Linked DNA regions of Homo sapiens. The protein of the gene in region 1 purifies or fractionates together with the protein of each later gene. This does not show direct contact. Each region holds a gene or a part of one and is shown on either strand. Other genes may lie near its edges.

Region 1 (3,753 bases):
TTCTAAAATAATAACTTACAAACAATTTCTGTCAATTACTGTGTGTACTATTAAACCTTTTGACTAGGAATCAATAAACTATTGTCAGGGAGCCAAATCCACCCTGCCACCTATTTTTGGAAGTAATTTTAGTGGCACGCAGACACACCCATTTGCTAACACATTGTCTATAACTGCTTTTGCATTAAAATAATGCAGTTGAGATCATAGGGTTCATAAAACCTACAATATTGGTTGTCTCACTTATTTCTAGAAAAAGTGTGTTAACTCCTACTCTGGCTTTATATTTTCTTATCAATCATGAAAGAATGGGTGAGGGATTTGTAGCTGGGGTCACAAGAAGACATGTCCAGGAGAGCAAAACTGCAACTAAAATTTGCACATTATAAGAAACACAAAATTTGACACAATACAAAAATAACTTTGTAATAGTCAAAGCTGTAAGAAAAGATATGTTTTTTTTTTAGCTTAAAGATGGACTCTCACTAGAAGTTTCTTATTTAGAATTGAATATATTTAGGGGGTTTGAGGACATTGGTTTGATTGGTTATGTGATCTATTCCAAGTCAATTTTTTTAAGTTTATATTTTAAATTGTACCAAGTCAAAATTTTTTTATTTTATATTTTAAATTGTACCCTGGCCGATTCGTTTTCAGAAGTCATTTGTTTTGTAGCCTTTTTTTTTTGTATACACATCAAATTCTTGACCAAAGGACAGATTTAATATTTTCACATATGAAAACAAATAAATTATGCCACTGTTTCCTGCTATTAATTATTGCTTGGTCTTCTCAAAGGCCAGGCCTTTTGGCCTAGGCAGTCTGTCTGCAGTTCCAACAGCTGACACCTGATGGTGAGTAGTAATACCTGTTAGCTAATACATAGACTCAGAGCTACATTATCTATGTCATTGGTATAATGGCTATAAAACCAAGTCCTACTATTAATATTGGCTTTCTTCTCAATGTAACCAAAGCAATTCAGAGTATGAAGCAACTTAAAGAAACAAAAGCATAGAAGAGCATCTAGTTAATCTGCACAATTTAAATATTCACTTCTAAAGATCATTACTTATTCTACATTTTCTGAGGAGTTATTATTATCAAACCCATATGTGATTACCCGTGACAGACACCTGAATTATACTCACTTTTGGCAAAAGTTCTGTCATGTTTGGCACTGTTGTCCATGAATGCACCTTGGACTGACCCCACCCCTTCTCTTATTCATTCTTTGTCTTATTTCACCTTTCTAAAACATTATTGTCTTCTTTCTCCTCATTCTGACCTCTACATGTGTTCTCCAGTTTGTGTCCTTGGATTGCTAATCTCCTTTGCAAGCATTCATCTCCTCATTCAAATAGTATCAATTAAATATACTCCCTGTCAATTGGATGCCAAGCTCAAGGGCATGGTGTCTCACTCTAAGCAATATTGATCTTTTGAATAGGACAATTCTTTGCTCTAAGGGGCTGTTCCATGCATTGTAGGTTATTTAGCAGCATCCTGGGTTCTATCTACAACTGGTACTGTGCCAGTAGTACAAGTTGTGATGAGCTAAAAGGTCTCTAGACGTTGCCTGATGTTCCCTTGAGCACAAATTCACTCCTCTCTGAGAACCACTGGTCTAGTGATACTTCGATATTTCAATAATTATTATTTCTGCCTTCAAATACATTGTTCAAGTCCAATCTGTCTGAAGTCTCTGATCATTACTTTCAACAAAGTAAAATCTCTCTCCATTTCTGTCTCACATCACTTTTTGTTATGATATTATTTTAGATTCACAGAAGAGTTGCAAAGTTGGTGGAAGCCAGCTTCCACTTATGTTATATATTGCATAAACTTGGTAATGTTAATTAAGATTAACGAATTAATGTTGATGTAATAGTATTTACTAAGCTATTCAGATTTTGCCAGTTTTCATACTTGTTATTTTTGTCTGTTTTTCACTATTGTCTTTATTATCTGTTCTGGAGTCCAATCTAAAATACCACATTACATTTTTGTGAAATGATGTTTTAATCCCTATGTTATTATCATATTTTTTATCAAGAAACAACTTATGTCTTCTCAAATTTGTTAGTATAAATCCCCACAAATATTTGCATATTACCTGGTAAAATTGTGACCCAAAAGTGCAGAATAAAGAAAAAAAGTTGAATCTTCATGGTAGAGAGTTTCTTAAAAAAAGGGGGCAACAGACCTCCTTTTTCAAGTCAGTTGTTTTGAAATAAGGAAACAGAGATCCCTTTTATTTGTGGATTCTCCTGGGAAGTACTTTTAACCACTGAGGCTTATCAAGAGCAAGAACATTTGTATGCTTGGTTGAATAGTGCCACCCTCAAAGAACATGAACTCAAAAAGTATTATTAAATTTTTCTCATAAAAGTAAAACCTGCTGTGTAACCTTAACTAGACTTTCATGAAAACAACACAGTTTTTAAGATATTTTATTTATAGGGGATATGTGTTTGGATTGCTAAATGTTATAGTAATCATCTCCTCTATTCTATGTTATATGTAATATTAAGTATTCTAATGCCTTAGTATAAAATTGTTGAATGCCTGAATCATAAGATTTTAGAGAAAAAGTTTCCATTGAGATCAGTTTTGTTTTGCTGATAAAACAATGAGAACCAGGGAGATTAAATAACTTTATTTCAATTAATATAATATGCAATTATTTAAATAATCAGTAAATTCTGGATTCACTAAAAATGTGAGAAATATTCTATATGTCTTTTTTTTTTTTTTTTTTTTTTGAGATGGAGTCTGGCTCTGTCACCCAGGCTGGAGTGCAGTAGCACCATCTCAGCTCACTGCAACCTCTGCCTTCCAGGTTCAGGTGATTCTCCTGCCTCAGTCTCCTGAGTAGCTGGGATTACCGGTGCCTGCCACCACGCCTGACTAATTTTTGTATTTTTAAAAGAGATAGAGTTTCACCATGTTGGTCAGGCTGGTCTCAAACTCCTGACCTCATGATCCACCCGCCTCGGCTTCCCAAAGTGCTGGGATTACAGTCATGAGCCACCATGCCCGGCCAAGTCTTTGTATGATTCATAAATTTTCTATAGTCATCTGATTTCAAAATTTCAGGTTCAATGTTTTAATTCTGTTTATGGAACTGAAAATTTCATATCTGATCTAAATTGCATGCTTGCAAAAACTATTATTTTGGATATGTGAGAAAGAGCTGGAAGTTTTGCCCAGTACTCAGAAGCTGATGCTATAAAGAAAAACAATTGGCCAGGTGTGGTGGCTCACACCTGTAATTCCAGCACTTTGGGAGGCTGAGGCGGGTGGATCACCTGAGGTCAGGAGTTCTAGATCAGACTGGCCAACATGGTGAAACAACCCCGTCTCTACTAAAAATACAAAAATTAGCCGGCCATGGTGGCAGGCACCTGTAATCCCAGCTACTCAGGGGTCCAAGGCAGGAGAATCACTTGAACCTGGGAGGCAGAGGTTGCAATGAGCCAAGATTGTACCATTGCACTCCAGCCTGGGGTAAAAGAGTGAGACTTCCTCTCAAAAAAAAAAAAAAAAAAAAAAAAGAAAGAAAAAGAAATCAATTAATCAATTATTTCCTACCACATAGTTAATTTTTAAGACAGTGGTTCCTAAACTTTAGCTGCATCAGAATCCCTTAGAAAGCTTGCTAAAATCAGATTGCAGTGTCCCACCCCCGGCATTTCTGATTTAGTAGATCTGGAATAGGGACTAAAATTTGCTTTTCTAACAAGATCATTG
Region 2 (3,653 bases), on another chromosome or scaffold:
AGGCCACCAGGCTGAGCACAGGTGACCACTTGGTCTTTGCCAGCAGCCGCATCACACACCTGTTGGCTCCCTGTCAGGGGATAAAGGGCCCACCATGAGGAAAACCCACCACACATGATAAGCACAGAAGCAGCCTCTTGTTGGCAGCCAAATGCGCTCCTCAGACTCAGATCTTGAGGGGGTCGCAGTCAGCTCAATGCCTACTCCTCAAGGGCCCCATGACCCGGCACAGAGCTGGAGGCGGGGCACGGGTCTGGAGGAGGGACTCACAAAGGGCAGGGAGCCGGAGGAGGGTGTTGGTCAGGAAGGCTCCTGCCCCAGGGCCCTGGGCGAAGCCAGCAGCCTGGAGAGGGACACGGTGAGCAGTGAGCGAAAGCCAGAGGTGCGGAGGCCAGAGCTCTTCCCAGGACCTTCAAGTGTCCCAGATAGTCCCAGGGCCGGAGGCTGGAGTCAGCCCAGGCAAGGCCTCAGGGGCTAGCCAGGGAAGTGGGGCTCTGCCCATGGCAGGTTTCTGGGGTGCAAGGTCCCAGCTAGCCCAAAAGGGAGACACTCCAGCAAGCCTGGCGGGGGGTCCAAGGAGAGATACAAAGACTCCCAGGGCCCTAACACACCCACCACGGACTCAGCTCACAGAGAGAAAGGAGAAATGCCCATTTGCAAGGGCCCTTAGCACAGAGGCCTGCTCTGCCAGCTCCTTCTCTTTTCTCATAACTGAAGTGGGGGCAGGGCGGGGGTGGGTTGTTTAGTTGTTTGTTTGCTGGAACTGGTGGCAGCACCAGACCTGACCTTTAAGGCTTCAAATGCAGCGTTTTAGGCGGGGCCAGCAGGAGGAGAACACGGGCTGTGGAAGGAAGTGATCAAGACTGAAATGCCACGTCAGGCTGGAAACTCGAGGCAGAGCATGGGCCTCTACCATCTCAGGAATACGCCAGCCCCTCCAAGCCCACACTGCCTGGTGACAAAGTTGTCCTTCCCAAGGGGACCCAGAAAGCTTTTATGTCTCTGAAACAGCACAGGGACATCAGAGTTTGCCCCACAGAAACCCAAGGAGTTGGGGCCTCACACCACATAGACATCTTGCCCTTCGAGTTTGCCAAAGCAGACCTCAACTTGCCCCCCGACCCATGCCATAGATTTTATTTATTTATTATTTATTTATTTATAAATGACAGGCTCTCACTCTGTGTCCAGGCTGGAGTCCAATGGCACCATCACAGCTCCCTATAGCCTCAACTTCCTGGGCTCAAGCCATCCTCCCACCTCAACCTCCTGAGTAGCTGAGACCACAGGTGTACACTACTACACCTGGCTAATTTTTGTATTTTTTTGTAGAGATGGGGTTTTGCCATGTTGCCCAGGCTGATCTTCAACTCCTGGGCTCAAGTGATCCTCCCACCTCGGCCTCCTAAAGTGCTGGGAGTACAGGCGTCAGCCACTGCACCCGGCTGGATATTTTTATTTAAGAGAAACAGCTGTACATCAGTGCGAGGAAGGCTGCATAGGGAGTCGCCCTCCCCGCAGTCTGTACTGAGCATTAGGGATGAGGGCTGGGCCCTGCCCACAGAGTATGTGCAGCCACAGATATGTGGGGCTTGAAGGTTCCCTTCCCCCATCTTGGGCCTCAGTTTCCGTGTCTATATGATGGTGGTATCAGGACCTCAGGGATTTCTGTGGCTGTGGCATGTCCTTTCCAAGTCAGGGACGCATGCAAAGCCCATAATGCCCAAGGAGACGGTTGCACCCAGGCTCCCTGCCCCCACAGGAACCCCTCCTGGCCTGTAGGCTCCTGAGCCCCTCACAGCCACTTCCCAAAATCCCAAGGGCCCTGGGCCATCGCAGCACTGACAACACACAGGCGCGTCCTGAAAATGCCAGGAAAGCAAAACTCTCAGACAACAGAACCCACGAGAACTGGGTCCACACAGCTACTGGGGCCAGGGCCCATCACAGGGCATCACTGGACAGCCTTATTTATGAAGACTCAGTAGACAAAAATCCATCCTTGAAGGAAGTGTCTTCGCTGGAGATGCTCCAGATGGAGAACATGTGGAGGAATCATCCCTCCAGATCATCAAGGGATCATCAAGCCAAAGTTTTTACAGCCCAAATCGTGCCCACAGTGTCTTGCTGCGGGGAGGACCCAAACCCACAGCAGATACTCAAGGGCTGCCAGTCTCCTGCCCTTCAGTGTGCAAATGAGAAGCACCCACTCTGAAAGGGAAAAGTGCCAGCCCAAGGTCACACAGCAAGAGCTTCCCACTCTGCCTGAGCCCAGGCTCCACGCCCACCCTCCAGATTTTCCACGCGGGGAAGGGCTGTTTGCAAAGATGCTTCACTTCACAAAGGACTCACGGAGCTCCTCTGAGTCCCAAGTCCTCCACTGAATGTAAATACCATTCAATTTGCAAAAATTTGAATTACAAGGACGCAGCCTCTGTTTCCTTTGCAGACTGTCATCACGCCAGTTGGTAGAAGATCAAACTTTCCAGCTCAGCTTTAACTCAGGCTGTTTCTAACATAAAAGTTTGCAAAACACTGGCCCTAACAATCAGGATGCTTTATTTCCCACTGCCAGTGTTTGCCCAGCCGAGCCCTGGCATTAACCTCAAAGGCAGGTGGTGAAGGTGGGCACTAGGAGCCCATTCTGGCTGCAGAGATAAACCACACGTGTGCTTGCACTACATAGGCTCCCAAGCACATGCCCGCATTTGACTTCATATGCACATACACGCACACACCTACTGCTGCCTACACACGAGAATGCCCATGCACACACATCTACACACATGCATCCATGTGTGAGTACAAACACACGCACACAAGTGGGTATACGCACAAGCATGCTTAGATGTGAACACGTCTGACACATGCACACATACATGAACACACAGGTGTAGACACGCCCACATACAAGCTGACATGTGCACACAGGCAAAGGCAAGAGCCAAACACAAGAGGAAAGACTCACAAACCACAAGTGGGTCCCAAGTGCCTGTAGGGCCTGGATGGGTGCTGGGTGCTATGGATGAGGGGATAGTGGCTGGCACTTGGAGTGCAGGCCCAGCTAGACTGCAAATACCCCCTAGATCCAGTCGGGATCCACATGCCCTTATCACAGACTCCCTGGGGCCAGGCCCATCCCTCACAGTCTATCACACCCCAACCCTATGTGGCAGTACAGCCACGGAAGCCCTGTTTTACAGATGAGGCTCCAAGACCCTGAGAGGCTGTGGAAGTTCCCAAGGTCACACAGCTGTTGAGAGGTGTGGCAGAGTCTCAGTGCACACGAAGAGGGGGCTTGTTCAGAAAGAACTAGCCATCAGGGAAGGCAGGCATCAAAGGGGAAGAAAGGGGCCCAGGGTCTAAGAGGGGCAGGGAAAAGACAGGCAGAAGGAGTGACTTCTCAGCCTTTTCACCCACCTCTTCCCCTTTGTTGAATGAGGATCATTTCCAAGGTGGGAAAGATGGATACTGATCAGCAGGAAAGGCTTCCCATGCCCCTCCCCCTCTGCTAAACAATTAGGCTGATCAGAACTCAAAGGGGGTCAATCTGAAAAGCAGCCATGAGACACCCAAGGTATGGCCAAAGGAGGACGGGAGGTCCAGGCACCCTCACACTGGAAGAGACAAGGCCCAGCGGCCACAGCTAAAGC
Region 3 (3,653 bases), about 100 Mb from region 1:
TGCCACTGCACTCCAGCCTGGGTGACAGAGTGAGAACTGGTCTCATAAAAAAAAGAAAGAAAAGAAAAAAGAAATGGACAAAGACTAAACGTAAACTTAAGGTTTTGAGACTCTTCGTCCTTCCTCAAATCCATACTTCATTACATTTTCTTCAGTTTTTCTTCTTTCTTACAGGGTGTTTCTATGTGTATGATATTATAAGACTGATTTACAGCTCTGACTTAGCCACACCCTGGTGTATCGCAAATTTTCTTTAAAAAATTATCAAAACAAAGCATCAAATCACTGCAGTTTTTAAGAAAGCACATGACATGCAGCATTTTTAGGATAGAAAGAACCTGGAAAATTGAAAAAAATTAAAAACATAAGCAATACTAAAAATTTGACATTTGAGACTTAGACTAGAGACATATTGAATTCTCATTTAAGGCATAGCTTTTACATGTAAAGTTATAACTAAAATCAAGCAGGGGAAGGACACTGTGTTTGCATTTCATTCTCAGAACACAGACCTCCCAACTCCATCCCTTCCAGCCACTGCCTAGCAATGTGACATAGCCAACTCACGATTCTGGCAGAAGTCTTCATCAGACCCATCAGGACACTGCTGCACTCCATCGCAGGCGAGCGTGATGTCAATGCAGCAGCCATCGTCACAGAAGAAGTGGTAGCGTGAGCAAGTGTGCAAACATCCTATTTGTAAACAAATCTCAAGTCACACGAGTGCAGAAGTTCAGACTCTCAAGATGGGGATGACAAAGGGGAGTCCGTGGGGATGATAAAATGCACTTCGGGGAAGAGATGCAAATAATGAGGCAAACCTAACAATTCCAGCAACAGGTTCTGGAGAGGTTGGAGGGCTCTTTTTGAGCCTCCCGACTTAATTCTTCAGACTCCTCAGGGGCTCTTGGTCTGAGGGCTGTTCTCCATGCTTGCCTTGCCAGGAGGTGGCACACAGAAGCAACAGCCCAGGTCTCTCTCCACCCTTGATTCCCCGCCTCAGCTGTCTCCCTCTTCATTCATTCATTCATAGAAACCATTGTTGGAACCTCTTCTTCTGGCTGTCGATTGCTCTGCAGGAGGGCACCTAATACCATCCCATCCCCTGGATGGCAGTTGGCTATGTTTTAACAGAGATACCATTTATTTATTTATTTACTTACTTAAGACAAGGTCTCACTCTGTCGCCCAGGCTGAAGTGCAGTGGCACAATCTTGGCTCACTGCAACCTCCGCCTCCCGGGTTCAAGAGATTCTCTTGCCTCAGCCTCTGGAGTAGCTGGGACTACAGACATGCACCACCACACCCGGTTAATTTTTGTGTTTTTTGGTAGAGATGGGATTTCACCTTGTTGGCCAGGCTGGTCTCGAACTCCTGACCTCAACTGATCCACCTGCCTCGGCCTCCCAAAGTGCTGGGATTACAGGTGTTAGCCACCGTGCCTGGCCCAGAGGTACTATTTTACATATGCTATGTCTTACATTCTTGTCTCCTAAGTAATACTTTTCACTGAGATTAAGTTTTTACTATTGAATCCTATTTGTTGATTATCATAACGTCCCTGGTACTGTAGAGAATAAACAAAATTTAGTTATGGGCTGGCATGAATTTAGTTTCATGAAATAATGACATTGGCCAGGCGTGGTGGCTCACACCTGTAATCCCAGCACTTTGGGAAGCTAAGGCGGGTGGATCACAAGGTCAGGAGATCGAGACCATCCTGGCTAACACGGTGAAACCCCGTCTCTACTAAAAATACAAAAAATTAGCCGGGCTTGGTGGCATGCACCTGTAGTCCCAGGTACTCGGGAGGCTGAGACAGGAGAATCACTTGAGTCTGGGAGGCAGAGGTTGCAGTGAGCCAAGATTGTGACACTGCACTCCAGCCTGGGCGACAGAGGGAGACTCTGTCTCAAAAAAAAAAAAAAAGAAAGAAATAACGACATTTCTCCCTTCTGGAGTTCTTAGGAGCTTTTAATTTGCAGTGCAATTCATAGGAGCTACAAATATTTTCCTGAAATGCATTTTCCCTCTCCCTTGATTAAGCCAACTTTATTAGACTTAGCTAGAGGAGAACCGGGTGACTATCTGGTACTGGCAACATGGACTAAGGCACAAGGCTAGAAGCAGGTCACAGGAGCTCCACGGTTTTACAGGGACAGAGTGGACTAGACAATTCTCTCAGGAACATGGGGAAGTGGCAGATTATATGATATTCCTTCAAAACCAAATGGCTGAGCACAGTTCACAAACCCAAGTGAAATCTTGGACATACACTTGGTTTTTTTTTGTTTTTTTTTTTTTTGTAGATACAGGGTGTCACTATGTTGCCCAGGCTGGTCTTGAACTACTGGACTCAAGCAATCCTCCTGCCTCAGCCTCCCAAAGTGCTGAGATTACAGGTGTAAGCCACTGCGCCCGGCCTTGGACACATCTTTTATTGAAACGTGGTTAAATCAAGAGGTTGGAAAAGGAGTCTATCTTGGTGTGAGGCAATTTGAAGATATATTGATCCAGGAGGAAGAGAAGTTAAAGAAAATAAATGGTGATAGAAGCTCCTGCGGAAGAAGAGGAAGCAAAGAGCCTGCAGTTATGACTGAGAACATGGGCCTGAAGGAGAGTCAGCTCCGGCCACTGGGAAGAAGCAGGGAGCGGAGGTGGGGGACACGCTGGATATCAAGCAGGATACAGTTCCTCGTCAGGTTTCTTAAATTCATGGCATGAAAATCCCAGATATCTCAAGGTTTTATTTATTCTTTGGTGATTTTGGAGATGGATCCATATTTGTAAATTTTCTATCTATTTTTGGATTAGCAGCCTCCAAACTTTTTTGATCATGCATCCTGATCAATAATATATTGTTGAACAGGCATCTCCAGTTTATTTATTTATCTATTTATTTGAGACGGAGTCTCGCTGTGTCGCCCAGGCTGGAGTGCGGTGGCACAATCTCAGCTCACTGCAGCCTCCAGCTCCCAGGCTCAACTGACTCTCATGTCTCAGCCTCCTGAGTAGCTGGGATTACAGGCGTGTCCCACCACATCCGGCTAGTCCGGTTTATTTATAAATAATACGTGCATACTACTGTACTAACATGGGGTGTATCTTATAAAATATACTCAAATTTTAAGGAAAAAAATTAAAAATCAGCAAAAATATAAACTCTGCTGTCTTCTTTCTCACCCTAAAAATGTCTTGAACAACTCAGGGGCATCCTGTTTGGAGACTGCTGAGTTAGATCATGTTGGAAGAGCTTGCTGGCTTGCTGTTTGATCATTTTTCTAAGCATGAAAAATGTTCAAAATGTCAACTTATTAAAAATTGAACCAAGTTATGATCATATAAGCAGGGTACCTGCTCATCTGTCTACCTCAGCTAGTGTCACCCTTGGTTACCATAACATCTGGGTCATTCATTGCAAGACCAATACATACAATGCAGGGGAGGGAAACACTTGTCTCTTCTACCTCTATTTTCCAATGTCTCTCTGTGGTGTTTTATTAACTTTAATTCATAGCATGTTATTCCAATATAACCACTAAGTGATTCTAGACAGCAGTTAGTACTTCACCAATTCCTTTTTATTTTCCATATAAAGTTACCCACACAAGACCTATACTCAAGCGGCCACTGAGTAATCAAAAATGATTCAC

What was found.
Region 2: the proteins of DEFB110 (region 1) and CACNA2D2 purify together in Homo sapiens (affinity purification with mass spectrometry; one large-scale study listed by BioGRID and IntAct). This does not show direct contact.
Region 3: the proteins of DEFB110 (region 1) and LRP11 purify together in Homo sapiens (affinity purification with mass spectrometry; one large-scale study listed by BioGRID and IntAct). This does not show direct contact.

The regions. Positions count from the first base shown.
Region 1 is NC_000006.12:50,019,765-50,023,517, forward strand, and holds the start of DEFB110 (beta-defensin 110 isoform a precursor), read right to left. Parts: upstream 2,231-3,753; 5' UTR 2,172-2,230; coding exon 2,117-2,171; intron 1-2,116.
Region 2 is NC_000003.12:50,493,529-50,497,181, forward strand, and holds part of CACNA2D2 (voltage-dependent calcium channel subunit alpha-2/delta-2 isoform b precursor), read right to left. Parts: intron 1-3,653. UniProt on the Homo sapiens protein: The alpha-2/delta subunit of voltage-dependent calcium channels regulates calcium current density and activation/inactivation kinetics of the calcium channel.
Region 3 is NC_000006.12:149,836,771-149,840,423, forward strand, and holds part of LRP11 (low-density lipoprotein receptor-related protein 11 isoform 1 precursor), read right to left. Parts: intron 694-3,653; coding exon 568-693; intron 1-567.